Regions from separate parts of the Homo sapiens genome. Here regions 1 and 2 are each linked to region 3. The links come from fine-mapping of genetic effects on gene expression. A gene starts in region 3. Each other region holds a variant in brackets. All regions are shown on one strand. Distances are from middle to middle.

The links. PIP is the estimated chance that this variant, and not a neighbour inherited with it, causes the effect.
Region 1: its variant is fine-mapped to the expression of SNX27 in whole blood (TOPMed, PIP above 0.99).
Region 2: its variant is fine-mapped to the expression of SNX27 in whole blood (TOPMed, PIP above 0.99). The same link has a PIP of 0.9 or more in T cells.

Annotation. Positions count from the first base shown.
Region 1 is chr1:151,703,224-151,710,639 of GRCh38, reverse strand. CELF3 (CUGBP Elav-like family member 3) reads left to right here. Exons shown (of 13, transcript NM_007185.7): 3 at 849-897; 4 at 1,292-1,420; 5 at 1,563-1,642; 6 at 2,705-2,848; 7 at 2,992-3,133; 8 at 3,346-3,495; 9 at 3,906-3,971; 10 at 4,279-4,416; 11 at 4,675-4,818; 12 at 5,472-5,609; 13 at 7,192-7,416. The coding sequence ends at 5,599. Among named protein-coding and RNA genes, the nearest start is that of CELF3, 9.9 kb to the left of the region's middle. RefSeq lists enhancers at 3,941-4,441, 4,442-4,942. The variant C/G (reference allele first, on the strand shown) is at 3,620.
Region 2 is chr1:151,678,912-151,683,911 of GRCh38, reverse strand. SNX27 (sorting nexin 27) reads right to left here. Exons shown (of 12, transcript NM_001330723.2): 8 at 467-556. Among named protein-coding and RNA genes, the nearest start is that of CELF3, 35 kb to the left of the region's middle. The variant T/G (reference allele first, on the strand shown) is at 3,076.
Region 3 is chr1:151,607,267-151,614,239 of GRCh38, reverse strand. It overlaps SNX27 (sorting nexin 27), which reads right to left and starts at 2,190. Exons shown (of 12, transcript NM_001330723.2): 1 at 1,728-2,190. The coding sequence starts at 2,038. LOC124904420 (a long non-coding RNA gene) reads left to right here and starts at 872. Exons shown (of 2, transcript XR_007066622.1): 1 at 872-1,049; 2 at 1,841-3,723. RefSeq lists a silencer at 1,835-2,274 and an enhancer at 2,315-2,414.

The DNA of each region.
Region 1 (7,416 bases), 96 kb before region 3:
AAGGATTTGCTCTGGAGGAGGGAGGCAGGAGAAGGGATGGGATGGCCCCTGCAGGGCCTGCTCTGCAAGCCTCCCTCCAGAATCAGGAAGGTTTTCTGGGCCCCTCCCCCACCTCCCAGCCCCCACCAAATCCTCCACCCCCAGCATACCCTGTTAACCACCCCCCACCCCACTCCTTCTCTGGGTGTGTGGAGCAGCAGAAGTGATGACGTCACCACGGTCGCCAGGGCGACGGGGACGGATAAATCAGGCTGAGTGGGCGGTTGCCATGGTGCGCATTCTCCCGTTGCCACGGAGACTGGGCATCTGCTCCCTTTGTGCTGCCCGAGTGCCTTCCCCCTGGGGTCAAGGGGTATAGGGGGGCAGAAAGAGAGGCAGACACACCTCTAGAGGTCAGAAGGAAGTCTGGGCCTTTGTGGGGTCTCCCTCAGTCTAGAGTCCTCCTTGGGGCTTCTTCAGAGTGGCCTCTGTTGCGCCCACTTTGTAGAATTGAGGCAATTCTTATTAAATAACTCCTTGGTCGGGCTCTCTCTCAGGCCCCGGGTCCTATGTGCAGGCCCCCTTCTCCCACTCAGGACAGCAGCACCCATCCCTGGCCAAGTCATCAGGAGCCCAACCTGAGCCTGGAGCTGTGCCCATGAGCCTCTCCCTCTACATCCTCTCTCTCTGTGCCTCTGATCCCCTCAGGCCTTCATCCTGAACAGTATTAGGCCCTGTCCCTTCCTTCCCATCAGAAACTTAGAGGGCCTGGGGCTTGCCCCTCTAGTCTCTCTGCAGGGCCTGGCCTGGGAGGGCTCTTGGGTGTTCAGAGGAGGTCCCCAGCAGCTGCCTTCTCTTCTCTCCTTCAGATGAACAGGCCGATCCAGGTCAAGCCAGCCGACAGCGAGAGCCGAGGAGGTAGGTTCTGTGCCTTTGGACTCTGTCCCTCTCCTCCCACCCCCAGGCCCAGGGCCTGGAGTTGTCGAGGGGTAGCCTTTCTTGAGGGAGAAAGCCTGATGATTCTGAAGAGTTCCCAGCTGCGGTGAGATAGGAGTCAGTGTGGCCAGAGCGGGTGAGATCTGGGGCGGGTACAGATGGCAAAACTGAGGCCCAGGGTGGAGTGCGAGTCCCTCAGAGCTGGGATGAGCACCCTCTGCAACTATACCCCATTCCCCAACCATCAGCCCCTACAGCCATTGGACCCTAAGGGTAGCAGAAGTAGTGTTAGGAGCTCCAGGGAAGGGCGGAAGAAGGGCTGGGAAGGCAGCCAGGAGGCCCTGAACATGCCCTCCTCCTGTGCCCTACCACCCAGAAGACCGGAAGCTCTTTGTGGGGATGCTAGGGAAGCAGCAGACAGATGAGGACGTCCGGAAGATGTTTGAGCCCTTCGGGACCATCGACGAGTGCACTGTGCTCCGGGGGCCAGATGGCACCAGCAAAGGTAGTCCACCCACTTCCCCCTTCCCCACCGGGCCCTTCCCCTTCCTGTTCCACCCCCAAGACTCCCTAGGCATCGGGTTCCACCGCGGGGTCCCGCAGGGATGGGTGCTTACCCCTCTCCTCCTCCATCTCAACCTCTCCAGGCTGCGCCTTCGTGAAGTTCCAGACCCACGCTGAGGCCCAGGCGGCCATCAACACCCTTCACAGCAGCCGGACCCTGCCAGTGAGCCCCACTCCCCTGCCCCCGGGCCTCTCCTTCCCACCCTGCCCACCTGCCAGGCCCTGGCCCAGAGAAGCAGTCCACTCAGGATGGGCTATTTGAATTTATTGGAAAGGAATGTCCTGGCAGAAGAACCAAACTGCTTAGGGACACCCTCACATTTCAAATGGCACTTCCCCACCTCCCCACTCCTCCCCTATTCCCCATCCACCTTCAGCCAAATTCCCTCACATCCCTCTCCTTCTCCCTCCATTCCCCAGCCCTCCCTTCACCCCCGTCTCTTCTCCAGCCTTCCCATATCCCCCTACCCTCATTTGCTGGGGCGCCAGGACACTTGCTTAGAGGCCCCACGTGCACCCCTCTTCCCTGCCCCTGCACAGCAGCGTTAGGTCAGTGACCAGTCTAGAGCCCACCTCTAAATTGGAACTGGCTGACTCAGAAGGCTGTGCACTTCCCATAACTCACAGCTCTCCAGCAAAGGCTGGGCAGACATTTCACGGGGCCTTGGTGGAGGGGACACAGCATTGGGTAGAGAACTGTGTCCAATGACCCTATGCCCCTTCCAGCTTTGAGATTCTAGGATTCTACCATCATCCTTGCAAATGCTCCAATTTGGTTTTTATTCAGCTCAGACTAGTATTAAGATTTGAGGCACACCATGAGGACTGGGGTGTGGGGGCAGGAGTCGTGGTAAGGCACGCAGGGCAGCTACAAGGGAAGACTAGCCTGAGATTAAACATTTGCTGTGGCAACCCAGGGTGGGGATGATTTCCAGTTCAGAGTCCTCACAGAGTAGCCAATGATGCCCTTTTCATTCCAGTAGGCTTTTCACTTTCCAAGCATGTGCCTTCACATTCCTCATTTTTTCTTCTAGCCTCTTGCACATCCTAGCATAGGGAGAGAGTGGGATTAATATCTCCCCATCTTTCATACGCAAAATGGTGGCCGCCCTCTCAGAGAGGCCAAGCCATGCCATGGGGGTGGAATGGAGACCAGGTCCTGAGGGCTTTGGGGAGGAGAGACCCTGACCCTGCACCTCTGACCTGTGTGTGGGCCCGTGCCCAGGGTGCCTCGTCCAGCCTGGTGGTGAAGTTTGCTGACACTGAGAAGGAGCGAGGTCTCCGCCGCATGCAGCAGGTGGCCACCCAGTTGGGCATGTTCAGCCCCATCGCCCTCCAGTTTGGAGCCTACAGCGCCTACACCCAGGCCGTGAGCACTGCCCCTGATGCCGGGCCAGCCCTCCTGACCCCCTGTATCTTGCCCCCACCCTCCCGATGCCAAGGCCCCGGGCTGGGAGGGAGCCAGGCTTGGGCACAGGGGGCCTGCCCCACTCTCCTCTCCCCTCCCCCCAGCTGATGCAGCAGCAGGCGGCCCTGGTAGCGGCTCACAGTGCCTACCTCAGCCCCATGGCCACCATGGCTGCCGTGCAGATGCAGCACATGGCTGCCATCAATGCCAATGGCCTCATCGCCACCCCCATCACCCCATCCTCAGGTATGGCCTGGGCAAGGCCGGGCAAGGGAGCTAAGCATGGTAGGGGTAGGGAGGGGCACAGGGCATTGCTCAGGGAAGCCTCGGGGTCTGGGAGGGACTCAGGGGTCAGAGAGGCCTGCTTCCTCCCCTCTGCCCACAGACTTGCTGACTGGTTCTCTGCCTGTGTGTGTGTCTGCTCCTCTGCTCTCTCCCTGTCGCTTTCTCCTCCCCAGGAACCAGCACCCCTCCTGCCATCGCTGCCACGCCTGTCTCTGCCATTCCGGCTGCCCTGGGCGTCAACGGCTACAGCCCGGTGCCCACCCAGCCCACTGGGCAGCCTGCCCCTGATGCTCTGTATCCCAACGGGGTTCACCCCTACCCAGGTGGGACTCTCTGCCTGCCCACTCCGTCCCAGCAACCATCTAAACCACCACTCCCATTAGGGAGGCAGGACACACCTTCCCTCCCAGCTTTGGGGGTACAGGTGCTTCCTCCTGCCCTGCCATC[C/G]TGGGCGGGGATGATCCTTCCTGTTGGGCTCGGCCAGGAAGCTGAGGTGTAGAGCAGTGAAGCGACCTGTCCAGGGTTGCAAGACAGTCAGACCCAAGTCTTCCTAACGCTGGGCTCTTTCCCCTCTTCCCACTGCTTTGTGCATTTCTGCCTTCTCACTTCACACCCCATGCCCAGAGAAGCTCTGCTCCCCACCTGCCTGGCCTCGGCCCAGAGGCCCAGAGAGGCACTGAGGGCCCCCACTGTGTGCCAGGTCCACGCTCATAGTCTGTGCTGCTCTCCCCAGCCCAGAGCCCCGCGGCCCCCGTGGACCCCCTGCAGCAGGCCTACGCGGGGATGCAGCACTACACAGGTGAGGCGCCCTAGCCAGGGCCCCTGCTCAGGTGGGAGAGGTGGCAGGAGGAAAAGAGGCCCAGTAACTGGGTCTGGGCTTCTTGGCTCCCTGCCAATCACCCTCTTCAGGCTTTACTGACAAGCCCAACTGTGGGGAGGGGTCTTTAAGGGCAGCACACCCAGGGGTCTGAGGCAGCTCCTTCCCTGACCACCTCTCAGCCCTGCAGGTGCCACTGGCCTGGGCTAGGGGAAGGGAGACAGGGTTGGCTGGGAGGGCTCAAGAAGTCAGGGAAGCCCCATCAGCCTCTCTCTTCTCCCCACCCCAGCAGCCTACCCAGCAGCCTACAGCCTGGTTGCACCTGCGTTCCCGCAGCCTCCAGCCCTGGTCGCCCAGCAGCCCCCACCACCACCTCAACAGCAGCAGCAGCAGCAGCAGCAGCAACAGCAGCAGCAGCAAAGAGAAGGTGCTGGCTGGGGCCTTGGGAGACAGGAATGCCCTCGTTATGGGCTTGGGGACTCCCTGTCACCCCGCGCTGAGCCCAGCTCTTGCCCACGTGTCAGGATGAAAGCAAGTGGGGAGGGAGTGGCCGGAGACTTGGCCCACACTGTCAAGGACTGGGACTGGAGGGCACTCCCAGGATCTGCTTTCCCTGGGACATTTGCTTCTGGGGTGTGTGCCTCCCAGTCACTGAGCTCTTTCTTCTGTCTCTGTCGCCACCCAGGCCCTGATGGCTGCAACATCTTCATCTACCACCTGCCCCAGGAGTTCACTGACTCAGAGATCCTCCAGATGTTTGTCCCCTTTGGCCACGTCATCTCAGCCAAAGTCTTTGTTGACCGAGCCACCAATCAAAGCAAATGTTTTGGTAAGAATATGATATGGCACATTTTTTGCCATACTCCAAATCAGGACAAGGTCTAATATATTTGAAGGCATTTATGGTCACAGTGGACCCAGTATTTGAAATACTGATTATCCAAGAGTACAAAAGAGCCATTTTGACACACCCAACATGCCACACCCAGCTGCTGCCTCGGCCCATCTCTTCTTCCTTCAGCGTTTCTCTTAAAAACTGGCCAAATTCATGTCCCATGAGGTCTGAAATAGGCTTATGGTCTGGGGATGTTTGGTTTGCAAAAGGTGGGCTTGGGGAGTCGGTTTTAGCTGCCTTCACATCTTTGAAAGTCTTCCTCAGGGGAGAAAGGGAATGTTCTTCTCTGCTTCAGAAGCCATTTAGGGTCTGGAAGTGGCCGTTTTCAAAGGGCAGGCTCAGAGCTATCCAGGCAGAGGAAGGGGTCACTGGCACAGAATGCTGGGAAGAATGTGGTAGTTGGAGTGGCTGGACTGGATTCATCCATTCAACCCATCAATCAACAAATTCCTAAGGAATGCTGCTATGTGGCAGGCAGCTTTCTAGGCATTTGGGACACTTGGGAGACACAGGGTAGTGCCAGAGGTCTCCTAAGCACGGAAGAGCGAGGTGGGGCTGGGCCGGGCCTTATGCCCCTCTCACCCCAGGCTTTGTGAGTTTCGACAATCCGGCCAGTGCCCAGGCTGCCATCCAGGCCATGAATGGCTTCCAGATCGGCATGAAGCGCCTCAAAGTCCAGCTAAAGCGGCCTAAGGATGCCAACCGGCCCTACTGAGGGCCCCCAGGTGGGTCCCGCTCCGTTGTGGCCTCCCTCCCCAGCTTCACACACTGCAGCCAGGGCCCTCGATTGGACTACACCCCCAACCCCTGTCCTCCACCACCCTCAGGGATGCCCACCCCACCCTTGACCCTGGGCACTTGAAGCAGGGGGCTGGGGCAGCTCCCTCAGCTGTTTTTCAATAATCTGAGTCACTCTCTCTCTCTCTCTCTCTCTCACACACACACACCCTCCGTGACCCCAGAAAGAGCCAAGTCTTTGTATATATGTGTCCACTCCCTGGACCTTCCACAATATCTGGTCTCGTTTGTCTGGTCAGTGTCCATGTCTGTGTGTGTCTCTTTCTGGTTTTCCTTCGGGTTAGAGTGGAATTAGGGGAACAGGACTGGAGGATTAAGGGGTTGGCTGAGGGTGCCAGAGGGCCCTAGAATCCTTGGCTCCTAGAATCTCTGTTGTCCTGAGAAGTGAGGACATCAGCCCTGGTTTCCCTGGACTTCAGGTGATTTTTCCCATGTAGCAGCAGACCCATGGGGCAGCAGAGTGCACAGGACAGACTGGGGGAGCCCATTTTCAGGCCTCTTGGGAGTTGCTCTGGTTTAGGTGGAAGAGGTTGAAATGTCGCGCCGCCTGTGAAGTTTACTTAGGTCTCCTCCACCCCATTGCTGGCCACCACCTCAACCTCATGGCCACAGAGCTGTGAGCCTTGGTTACTTTCGCACTGTTTAATCTCCTTTGGACCAAACCCTTGAGAAAACACAACCCAAGAAAAATACCCACATTTTCTGTTTCTCCCCTTTCCCCCCAATCCTGGCTGCTTAACTCCCCCAACCCTGGGGGCCCCCCCAGCCCAGGGCCCGTGTCCATTGTCGGCCGAAGCCCCCATCCCCGGACCCCTGCTCCGGGCCCCTGTAAGTTGCATGGAACGAGCGTGTTGTCTTTGGAGCCGATTGTTTGTTCTTTGGGGAGGGGCCGCGGAGGGAAGCACCCCCAAGCCCAAGGTCAGGGCCGGGGGCAGCTCGCGGGACGTGCTTGGTCTACAGTGGTTGGTGACTGTGGTCTGTGTTCTGTGCATTTCTCTTGCTTTCTGTGTTCCTTTCCAAAAAGGAATGAGAGCACTAACTGGGGGCCGGGGGTGGTCTCACCCCATGAGACTCCATCCCTGAGCCGTGACCTGGGCTCTGCCCTGGCCTTCTCTGCGGGTGTTCCCTTTCTTTTTCCAGGTGTCTGTCTCTTACACGCACCCCCTTCTCTGTCTCTCTCTCGATTTCTCTGCCTGCCTGTCTGTTGTCATCTCTTTGCCTCTCTCCCCCTCCAGTCTTTATTTTTCTCATGGGCTATCTATTTCCTTCCTAATACCGTTTGGTTTCCTGTATGGTTTGCCCCCTCCCTCCTGTCTCCTCTATCCCTGCTCTCATGGCTGGGGGTGGGGGCAGATGGGTCCGTTTGGACTGAGGCCTGATGATCTGCCTTCCTCAGGCAGCCCCATCCTAGATGCTGTCACTCACCCCAGCCCCCTCCCCTCCCCCAGAGCCCGTGATCCGCATCGGGGGTCTCTTCCCCATGCTTCACCCATGTTTCTTCCTTCACAGGTCTGGAGATCCCAGAGGAAGGGGCGCCTCACACCCTCTTCCCACGACTGGCCCCGGCCCTCTCCGCACACCTGCCCTGGGCCTTGACTGGGTTCTGGGGCAAACGCTGCTTCGTGGCCCCCGGGGGCACAAGACACCGGCCCCTCCCACCCCCCTGCCTCTCTGAAGGGCCATGGCTATGCTTCCCTGGCTCCAAGGGCCCATTTCCTCCTAGATGCCCTTTTG
Region 2 (5,000 bases), 71 kb before region 3:
GTGGATCACCTGAGGTCAAGAGTTCGAGACCAGCCTGGCCAACATGGCAAAACCCTGTCTCTACTACAAATACAAAAATTAGCTGGGTGTGGTGGCACATGCCTGTAGTCCCAGCTACTCGGGAAGCTGAGGCAGGAGAATCGCTTGAACCCAGGAGGCAAAGGTTGCAGTGAGCCTAGATCGCGACACTGCACTTCAGCCTGGGCAACAGAGCAAGACTCTGTCCCTCCCCCACCCCACCCCCCAAAATAATAATAAAATTATGTACTAATACACAGTAATTCAAGATCTTTGTGTGTTAAATGGAGAAACACAATGGACTTTGCATCAAGGTCCCTATTCCCCTCCTTTTTTAAAATTAGTTAAGCCACTAACCAGGTTGTAATCCTTTCAAAAATGACTAGGACTATAGGTTTTAAAGGTAGGAAGGGGCATTTTTAAAGGGATTATGGGGACATAAACTTACCATGACCATTTTTCTTTGTTCGTATAGCTTCTGTAATTGATAGGACTTTTCTTCTGCTTTGATGTAACCTTTCTTCACATCATCGACTGCCTATCACCAAAACAGAAGTAGAGCAGAAAGGAGTGTAAAAATCATTATTATGTACATTCTCGATGAAAACAGACACAGACGCATTTTCAGAAAATCTCTTATCCACTTGGACCACCATCATTACCAGTGAACTCTGCCACATGTCCAGGGATATGGTCTGGCTCTGTGCCTCCACTCAAATCTCATCTCAAATTGTAGTCCCCATATGTCGAGGGAGGGACCCGGTGGGAGGTGACTGGATCATGGTCTGGTTTCCCCATGCTGGTCTCATGATAGTGAGGGAGTTCTCACAAGATCTGATGGGGTTTTTTTGTTTGTTTTGAGACAGAGTCTGGCTCTGTCACCCAGGCTGGAGTGCAGTGGCACAATCTCGACTCACTGAAACCTCCGCCTCCCAGGTTCAAGCGATTCTCTTGCCTCAGCCTCCAGAGTAGCTGGGACTACAGGCATGAGCCATCACGCCCAGCTAATTTTTGTATTTTTAATAGAGATGGGGCTTCACTACATTGGCCAGCCTAGTCTCCAACTCTTGACCTCAAGTGATCTGCCCGCCTCGACCTCCCAAAGTGCTGGGATTACAGGCATGAGACACCGCACCTGGCCTAGATCTGATAGTTTTAAAAACAGCAGTTCCCCCTGCATGTGCTCTCTCTCTCGTCACCTTGTGAAGAAGGTGCTTGCTTCCCTTTCACCTTATGCCATGATTGTAAGTTTCCTGAGGCTTTCCCAAGCCATGCGAAACTGTGAGTCAATTAAACTTCCTTTCTTGCACTTTGGGAGGCTGAGGCGGGTGAATCACAAGGTCAGGAGTTCGAGACCAGCCTGGCCAACATGATGAAACCCCGTCTCTACTAAAAATACAAAAAATTAGCTGGGCATGGTGGCAGGCAACTGTAATCCCAGCTACTCGGGAGGCTGAGGCAGGACAATCGCTTGAACCCAGGAGGCAGAGGTTGCAGTGAGCTGAGATCATGCCACTGCACTCCAGCCCAGGTGACAGTGCGAGACTCCATCTCAAAAAAGCACAAACAAACAAAAAAAAACCTTCCTTTCTTTATAAATTACCTAATCTCAGGTAGTGTCTTTATAGCAGTGTGAAAATGGACTAACACATCCAGTAACAGGTATACTTATTGGAATAACTAGCATTTAAAGAATATCTGGCAAGCGCTCAAGCATTCTTTTAGGTATATGTGAGAGATCTGGTTTCTCGTGTCAGAGGACTTAAATTCCAGTTATTTTATACATGTGTAAACAATTAGAGAGCACTGAAAGACAGTATATAATGCTGCATTACAATGAAATAGCAAACATGTATGGTACAGACAGTGATATAGGCAGTCAGAATGGAAGCACTTATTGATAATTACAGTTATCAGGGAAGCCTTAGGTGGATCCCCAAAGAACAGAATGAAGAAGAGAAACTATAAGCTAAAGATAGGAAACAGGAATGAGTCTGTGCTTAAATACTTTGAGAAAACAGATTTGCCTGATTTAAATAAGGGAACAGGAGACAATTAAAGATAATGCTGGATAGGCAGACTAACACTAGATTATGAAAAATCCTAAAAAGTAGGCACAGGAATTTAGACTTAAGGAAATAAACAACAGGGAGCTAAAATAAGCAATAAGAAATGGCTCCTTCTTTATTAAAGAAAGTTTGATTTGTGTTTGAAAGCCACATGAATTAACCTGAAGAGAGAATGAAATAAGGAAGATCAATGATGTTTGGTACTCAAGGTGGAAAGCATTTCCCAGAGTATTTTAAGGAAAGATAGTTGGATAGGCAAATGAGTTCAAGATTAAGTCAAGAGGGCCAGGCGCGGTGGCTCATGCCTGTAATCTCAGCACTTTGGGAGGCCAAGGCGGGTGGATCACGAGGTCAGGAGATCGAGACCATCCTGGCTAACATGGTGAAACCCTGTCTCTACTAAAAATACAAAAAATTAGCCGGGGAGAGGTGGCAGGCGCCTGTAGTCCCAGCTTCTCAGGAGGCTGAGGCAGGAGAATGGCGTGAACCCAGGAGGCGGAACTTGCAGTGAGCCGAGATAGCACCACTGCACTCCAGCCTGGGTGACAGAGCAAGACTCCATCGCAAAAAAAAAAAAAAAAAAAAAAAAGATTGAGAGACTAATTCAACTTCTAGTTCTGTCACCTACCAATGTGTACTTGCATAAGTCATGTAAACCCTTTCACTGTGTAAAACTGGAATATCTCATAGATGTACAAGAAAAAGATGACAGATGTTAAGAGTTTTGTAAAGTATATATCAGTAGCTATTATTAGTATCATTTAGCTATTAAGTTCTTCTAAGAACCGTACAAGGATATGAATGTCCTGCCAGGAAGTGACTAATAGAAAGATTATGCCAGTCTCTCCCCAACCTGGCCATACAAGTGAAGGCTCACTTAGGCACCGAGGATTATAGCCACAGAGGGGATGTTCAAGAAGAACCACGATGCAATGTCAATGTCCTGAAGATCCTGAACACTTTCCTCTTCATCACCAAAACACTGTAC[T/G]GCTCCAGCCAAATTTAAACCAATTATTGAAAAGCCAGCAGAGAAGTAGAGGGGGGAAATAAATAAACAATACTGGTCTATCCAGTTTCCAAAGAAACTTACAGTGTTATTTAGCTCAGGGAAAAGGCTTTACAACTATTTTTCTTTATTTCTGTATTGTTTCGATGAGAATAAGAATATAAGAATACTGTCTTTCTGTTTTGTTTTTACCCCTAACGCCTAGAACTATGTCTGACTCACAACAGTACTAATATTTGATGAACACTTTCCCAAGGCAGAGGTGGGTCACAGTGATTATCTACTCCAGCAATTCCAAGTGAGCTCTTTTACACATGGGGCAGTAAAAATGGTCTTCTTTCATTTCTAATCAAGAAATTGCTTACCCAGGTGTGGTAGCTCACGCCTGCAATCCCATCATTTTGGGAGGTGGAGGCGGGAGGATCACTTGAGGTCAGGAGTTCAAGACCAGCCTGGCCAACATGTTGAAACCCCATTTCTACTAAAATACAAAAATTAGCCGGATGTGGAGGAGGGAGCAGGTAATCCCAGCAACTCGGGAGTCTGAGGTAAGAGAATCACTTGAACCCGGAAGACGGAGGTTACATCTCCGTGAGCCCAGATCATGCCACTGCACTCCAGCCTGGGAGACAGAGCAAGACTCTGTCTCAAAAAAAAAAAAAAAAAGATTACACTGCTTGACTGACTAAGTGGAAAACATAAATATCACCACCCTAGTTTCCTTTTCTTCTTAAATTTTTTTAATTAAAGTAAAAGATGTATATAATTTAAAAAAACAAAACATATAGTACTAAAAGGCTCCTAATAAAAACAGCAGCCTCTGATCCCAGAGCGTCATTCCACAAAAGCAACTACTTTTAGGCACTTTAAGCAATTTCTTGTGATAATCCCTCCATAATTCTAAATGGCATGCTTACATTGACAATTCTTGACTTACCAATTTTAGACACTGTTGACTTACTGTGTTGAAAATATTTGGTTTTAACTCTCTTGTAGCACCCAAACACTCCCACTTCCTCTTCCCCCAACTTCTCAATAAAAAATTAAATACTCAATAACTGCATTATTATAAATATGTAAACACTATTCACAACTAAGCTATATACTATGCTATGACTTCCTTTCTTGCAAAATTTTTTATTTCCTCTGAGGTTAAATGCCTCGTGTTTTTGTTTGTAACTTCCCATGTACCTATCACCAATTTTTCCTCCACAATAACCAAATATCAAAACTCTTTTACTTAGACATTCATTTTCTAAAAACTGTCAACGGTTGTCATTTGCTGTGGTATCCTCCCTTGTTCTCTTTGTCCTTGCAAGTTTACGCTTTTTAAAATTCCAATACTGCTACTTTTGTGAGCTTTCAGGAAACAGCAGCTTAAATGTGTGTACACTTTGCTAGGTTTAGCCAGAATTTAAATATAAATGATTAATTTCTACCTTATTAATTTTTAAGGAAAAGGTTCATTATTACCATTAGCAACTAACATATAATATCTCATCAATTTAAATGAATACATTATTTCATATTTTAACATTTCTGAAATTGGGATGTATCTTACAATCAATGATGTATCAGTTTAACTGACAGCTTTTTTCTCTTATCAATACATAAAATAATGGTGCATCTTATAATTGATAACATTTTAGAACTGTGAAATTCGTTAAATATTCCTACCATCAAAATATGATACAAAAATAATTGAAATTAAGTAAGAGAAATTTAATATACTTTTCAAAAGATACAGTTGTTTACTTAGTCCATCAAAAAACAGCTGCCAGGCACAGTGTTTGTGGCCAGGTGCGGTGGCTCATGCCTGTAATCCCAGCACTTTGGGAGGCCAAGCTGGGTGGATCATTTGAGACCAGGAGTTTTGAGACCAGCCAGGGCAACATGGTAAAACCCCA
Region 3 (6,973 bases):
AGGAAAGGTATACTGTCTCCAAACACTGGCCTAGGTGAGCAACTATTTCTTTTTTTTTTTTTCAATCAACTCTCCCAGGTTAAAACCAACCATTTCTTGAGGTGGAAGAGGTGAGGAAACAGAATGAGTGGACACCATGGAGTTAAGAATGTCAAGGATAAGGGTAGATGGCACGAGATGAGTAAGAAGGAATGGATTTCTCTATAAGGCAGATTTTCAAAAAACTATCCCTTTTGCAAACCTACTGTTTTACAAGAGGCAACAGAAGGTTGCGGAAATTACAATTAAAATTTATAAAAAATGAGAACGATTTCAAGTGGGCAAATCGAAATATGGAGGGAGAGAGTAAAAGTGTAAAAAAGGAATGCACAACATAGATTCAGTAAGCAGAAACACAGCACTGAAGACTGCTGAGGAGAACGGAGACAACGCGAGCACACACCACCTGCAAGTCAACCGGCAATCACTATCCGAATTTCAATACGAAGTACAAAAAGGCAAATGTAACACCTAGATTAGGGTAATGGAGGCGGTGTGCACAGAGATTGCAAGACAAGGCAGCATCCCGCAAGAGCATGGAGGGATGTGGTGGGGGAGGCGTATGAAGGGGGAGGGACTGCAGCAGGGGAGAGAGGGTGGGCTGCAGCAGCAGAAGGCGCCTTAAAAAACAGAAGAAAGGAAAAGCAGCCTAGGGGAGGGAAAGACTAGGACAAAGTCAAGTGTGGGATCACAGGAGGATAGAGTAGAAGAGGCAGCAGAGACGGGCATGCCCTAAAAAAGCAAAGCGGTCAAAGACCCAAAAAGGGCTTGAAGTAGTTTTGAAGGAGGAGGAGTTACAAGGGGTCTACCATAAACCTGACTAGGAGGAGGCATGAGTATAGAGCAGGAGTGAAGGCAGGAGGCCAGGGAAGGGATGCTCTCAGAGGGGTGTGCTGATGGAGACGCTAGATTCCAAATTAGGGTGTGATACGGGGCCAACCGAGAAGAGAAACTACGGTGTCAAATCCCACGCCCCCCACCCCAAAGGCATGCAAGGGTCAGAAAGCAAGGTAAACTCTTGGAGTAGAAATACAAAAAGGAGGGGAGGAAAGGGGCACACGGTGGGATGGAAAAATTTAGGGGCAGCGTAACCATGAGGAGAGGGTAACTAAGGAAAGAAAAAGGAGACGAGCGGGGAGGGATGGTGTTTCCGGAGGAAAAGTAGGAGCAGACCAGAGGTCCTGCCTACTTGGTCTGGAGGGCAGAAGGGGCAGTCCACGGGGGCGGAGGGGAGTGGTGGAGAACGAAACTGCGATGCTGAAGATGAGAACTTGGGGGGGACACGGTACTGGCTGGATCAGAAAACGAAACGCCGTCAGTAAGGAGCAGATGAGGTTCCTTCTGAGCAAGACGAGGGGGAGTGAGGAGCAGAATGCAGCACGCCAAACGGGAAGGCAAAGGGGCGGAGAAGAGCCCAGAGTAATCGGGGCACAGGGAGGAGCACTGGGGGCGCAAGGGCATCAGCTGGAGACGACGGGGTGGGAGACCGGCGTCGCAGAAGCCCCGGGGCGGGTGGTGGGAGGGCAGCCCACAAGGAGGGGCCCGGCTGCGGAGGCCTGAGGGGCGGGGGTCCGGAGGCCGGCTCGGAGCTCGGGGGAGGTGCGGCCTGGGGGTGACAAGGGTAGCGAGGAGTGCAGGGGCAGGAGGGGCGCGGGGAGGATGGGGCGGCGGGTAGCCCCGATACTCACACCTCCAGGATGCGGTCCCCCTTGCGCACCCCGGCCCGATCGGCCGCCCCCCCGGGCAGCACGGCGCTCACATGCTGCAGCGGCGCGTACAGCTCCCCGTTGATGCTCCGCAGTTGCCCGCCCTCGCTCACTTGGCCCCGCACGTTGAAGCCGTAGCCGGACTCGGACTTGACGATGCGCACGACCCGCGGGCCGCCGCCTCCCCCGCCGCCGTTCCCGGCGCAGTGGAGCCCAGACCCCCCGCCGCCGCCGCCACCTCCGTTCCTGTGAGGGGCTGAGGGATGAATCCCTTCCCCGTCCTCGTCCGCCATCTTGCGAGCAGGCGAGCCGTACCCCCGCCCCCTACGCCTCCAAGGCCTCCCGGCGCGTGCTCGCCCTGCCTGGCAGCCGGACGACCCCCGACGCGCGCGCCCGATCCGCCGGCCGCGGGACCGACTCGGCCACCGAGCTGCTGGCGCGGGGTGAAGAGGAGGCAGGGGGCGGGCGAAAAGCGGACAATCGGGCACCGTGGGGCCTCCTGGGAGATGTAGTTTATGGGTGGCGGGGGCGGGGAGCGGTCTGGGCCTGGGCCTGAGCCGAGGTTATAAGACGCAGTTCGGAAGCAAGGCCTGCCGGGAGTTGTAGTTTATCTTTCATGCTGGGTTAGGAGTTTGATCTGCTGGGTGGGGAGAGTATAACCCAGCACCCAGCGTGGTAAAATGATTCAGTTCTTGATGCGGACCAAGTTTTTCGCCCCCCCCCCTTTCATTTCATAACCTCTAAAAAACAATAATGTTAGAATAACTTAACGTTTGTGATTCAACACAGTCTTAAATTATATCAACTCATTTTTTGGCACAGTAACTTATATGTTGACCAGGGCCCAACAACCTGTGAGGCAACCGGATCACGATTAGCTTCCCTATTTTACGTTATTAGGAAACAACCTTAGAGTGCTCAAAGTCATCCAGCTACTAAGTATCAGGAACTAAGGCCCAGTTATTGTGCAACTTTCTTGTCCTGTATTGCAACTACAGTCATGTGCCACATAAGGACATTTTGGTCTACAATGGACTGCAAACACGAGGGAGGCCCCCTAAGATGATAATGGAGCTGAAAAATGTCTATCACCTAGTGGCACAGTAGCCACCATAAGGTCATAGCACAAGCATTACTCACATGTTTGGAGTGATGCTGGTGTTAACAAACCTGCACTGCCAGTCATGTGAAAGTATAGCACATATGATTATGTACAGTACATAATACTTGATAATGGTAAGAACTATGTTACTAGTTTATGAATTCACTGTAGTTTTTATCACTATTTTAGAGTGTACTCCTTCTACTTTTTTTTTTAAGTTAACTGTAAAGCAGCCTCAGGCAGGTCCTTCAGAAGGTATTCTAGGTATTCTAAGTATTGTGATTTTTTTCCACGTATTCCAAGTATTGTGTTTTTTTGTTTTGTTTTGTTTTTTTGTTTTTTTTTTTTTTAAGATGGAGTTTCGCTCTTATCGCCCAGGCTGGAATGCAATGGCACGATATCGGCTCACCGCAACCTCTGCCTCCCAGGTTCAAGTGATTCTCCTGCCTCAGCCTCCCAAATCCCTTGCGATTAAACGCATGCGCCACCATGCCTGGCTAATTTTTTGGTATTTTTAGTAGAGACAGGGTTTCACCATGTTGGCCAAGCTGGTCTCGAACTCCTGACCTCAGGTGATCCAACCACCTCAGCCTCCCAAAGTGCTGGGATTACAGGTGTGAGCCACTGTGCCTGGCCCCAGTTATTGTTACCATCAGATGACAGCTCTGTGCATGTTATTACCCATGAAGACCTTCCAGTGAGACAAGAGATGGAGGTGGAAGACAGTGAAATTGATGATCCAGATCTGGTGTAGGCATAGGCTATGTTTGTGTTTAAGTCTTAGTTTTTAACCAAAAAAAAAAGTTTAAAACATAAAATTAAAAATTGCCTTAAATAGAAAAAAAGCTTATGGAATAAAGATATAAAGAAAGAAAATATTTTGTACATCTGTACAATGTGTTTGTGTTTTAAGCTAACTGTTATTACAAAAGAGTCCCCCCAAATTTTTAAAGGCTGGGTGTGGTGGCTCATGCCTGTAATACCAGCACTTTGGGAGACCGAGGTGGGAGGATTCCTTGAGCCCAGGAGTTCAAGACCAAACTGGGCAACATAGTGAGACCCCATCTCAACAAAAAATAAAAAATTAGCTGGTGGCTGAGCGAGACTATATCTAAAAAAAAAAAAAAAGCAGCTGGGCATGATGGCACATACCTGTAGTCCCAGCTACTTAGGAGGTTTAGGTGGGAGGATCGCTTCAGCCTAGGAGGTCAAGGCTGCAGAGAGCTGAGATCACACCACTGTACTCCAGCCTGACCATCAGAGTGAGATCCTGTCTCCAAAAAACAAAGATGAGATCTCACAAAATATGGGATGAGGACTCAAAGTCATTATAATTAGAACATAAAAATTAATATGACCTTATTTTACAACCAAGCTAATGAAGAAGGATCTTGACTAGTTACACAATAAAGTTGATATAAGAGTTTTGCTCCAAAATAATAGTGGCATTTGGATTGAATATGAATAATTTGGTTTGAACTGAGCACTGGATGGGGAAAGCAAGGCATCAGAGAAAGGAAAAAGAAGGGAGCCTCCCCTAAAAGAGTTATTTTTTCATTGGTTTATTAGATAAAAATATACTGAATGCCTACTCTGAATTAGATAAAAATATACTGAATGTCCCCGAAAGGCAACAGGACATGGTCAAACTTACAAATACACATATTCCTCAAACTGAAGGCGATTCCACTTCCAGGAGTTCATTCTACTGTTACACTTGCACATGTGTGAAGTGATGTTTTTATGAAGTTAAGTCATTGCAGCATTGTTTGTATTCACAAAAGACTGAAAACAACCTAATGTTTATTTGTTAAATCATAATGTATCCACAATGGAAAATTGAATCAATGTAAACACAGAATAAGGAAGCTCTGTATGCACTTATATGGAATGATCATATCATCAATACTATATATGATTTGGTGAAAACAAAGTGCAGCACAATCTATACAACATGATACTATTTGTATATAAAACGGGAACCATGGGCCAGGCACGGTGGCTCACGCCTGTAATCCCAACACTTTGGGAGGCCGAGGTGGGTGGATCACCTGAGGTCAGGAGTTTGAGACCAGCCTGGCTAACATGGCGAAACCCCGTCTCCACTAAAAATACAAAAATTAGCCGGGTGTGGTGGTGCACACCTGTAGTCCCAGCTACTCGGGAGGCTGAGGCAGAAGAATCACTTGAACCCGGGAGGTGGAGGTTGCAGTGAGCTGAGATTGTGCCACTGCACTCCAGCCTGGGCAACAGAGCAAGACTCTGTCTCAAAAACAAACAAAACAAAACAAATACAAAAATTAGCCGGGCATAATGGCAGGTGCCTGTATTCATCAGAAGGCTGAGGCAGGAGAATCGCTTGAACCTGGGAGGTGGAGGTTGCAGTGAGCCAAGATCACGCCACTGCACTCCAGCCTGGCGACAGAGCAAGACTCCATCTAAAAAGATAATAATAAAATAAAAGGGAACCATATATATTTTTATATCTTTAGAAGTATTCACAAGAAATTGATAACACTGATTGCTGCTGGGGAGGGAGACTGGATAGCTAGGGTGTCAGAGGCGGGGACAGGGGTAGGAGAGAGACTTTTCACTTTATACCTTTATGTAACTTCTGAATTTTCAGTCACATGAGTGTTGCCTATTCAAAAAATAAATTTAAAAATATTTAGAAAGGATCAGGTTGGAAGAAAAGATGATCAGAGCATTAAAATAACAAAAGAAAATAAGACACCATTACTGCTGGTGAGAATTCACAATCTAGCAGGAGAGAAAACAAAAAACCATTGCAATAGAGCATGATGAGAGCTGTGAGGAGAGTCCTGCACAAGCTGCTAGGATTGCACATCGGAGGGACTTCCACGTATCCAGAGGGAGGAGTTAGGGAAGATGACTCACGAAATGGGAGAGCTGAGCTAAGTGATTACAGATGAGAAGAGTTAGCAATTGCGGCAGAGAAGGATAGTGGTGGAAGGGCATTTCTGACAAAGGAAACAGCATATTCAAACACACAGAGATTTGAAAGAACACAGTACAGTGTGAGACCACACAGTTCAGTAGGACTGGAGCAGAGGAGACAGGAAGTGGACAGGGGAGGTGGGCAAGAGTCAGATCCAGGAGGGCTTAAAATATCGAATATCGGCCGGGCGCTGTGGCTCACGCCTGTAATCCCGGCACTTTGGGAGGCCGAGGTGGGCGGATCACGAGGTCAGGAGATCGAGACCATCCTGGCTAACATGGTGAAACCCCTTCTCTACTAAAAATACAAAAAATAAAAAATAAAAAAATTAGCCGGGCATGGTGGCGGGCACCCGTAGTCCCAGCTACTCGGGAGGCTGAGGCAGGAGAATGGCGTGAACCTAGGAGGCAGAGCTTGCAGTGAGCCGAGATTGCGCCACTGCACTCCAGCCTGGGCAACAGAGCAAGACTCTGTCTCAAAAAAAAAAAAAATCAAATATCATGCCCAGGAGTTTGAATTTCATTCCTTATTAGTGAGGGGCCTCTGATTGCTTTTAAGCAGAGCACAGGCATTCACAAATCTGTGCTTCAAAAAGTTCATGCTGCAGGATGTGTGGAGAATGAAGTCAGATAGAAAGATCAGTTATGAAGCATTTGCAGTGATTCCAGTGGGAATTAATGAGGTGCCAACTAGGGCAGTAGTGGTGGGAATACAAGGAGGGGGATGCACAGGAGAGAAGGGACTTGGTGACCACTAGGATCTCAGGTGCAAAGGTAGGGGAGGAAGGAATGACATAAGATTCCTGACATGGTGATGTGATTCCCCAAGACATGGCATAAAAAGGAAGCGGAAGAGGTTTGCAGGGAAAATTAATTTAATTTGTTTAAATTTGTTTGATTTAAACAAGAAGAAGATTAGTTTAATTTGGGGCCTTTGGGAAAGCCCAGAGGAATTGTCCAACAACTGGTTGAACACATGAGTGTGGACCTGGGGAAAGGAGTCTGGGCCAGAACTTAGATTTGGGAGCCATCAGCCCTGGGTGGTGGTAGATGAGAACCCCAAAACATACTGTGCAGTCAGATGAGAAGAGTGCCAAGTCCAGAACGTGGAGAATCTGCTCCCATGGTCACCCCATTTAGGAGACTGAAAGAGGGAGAGCATCCAGTG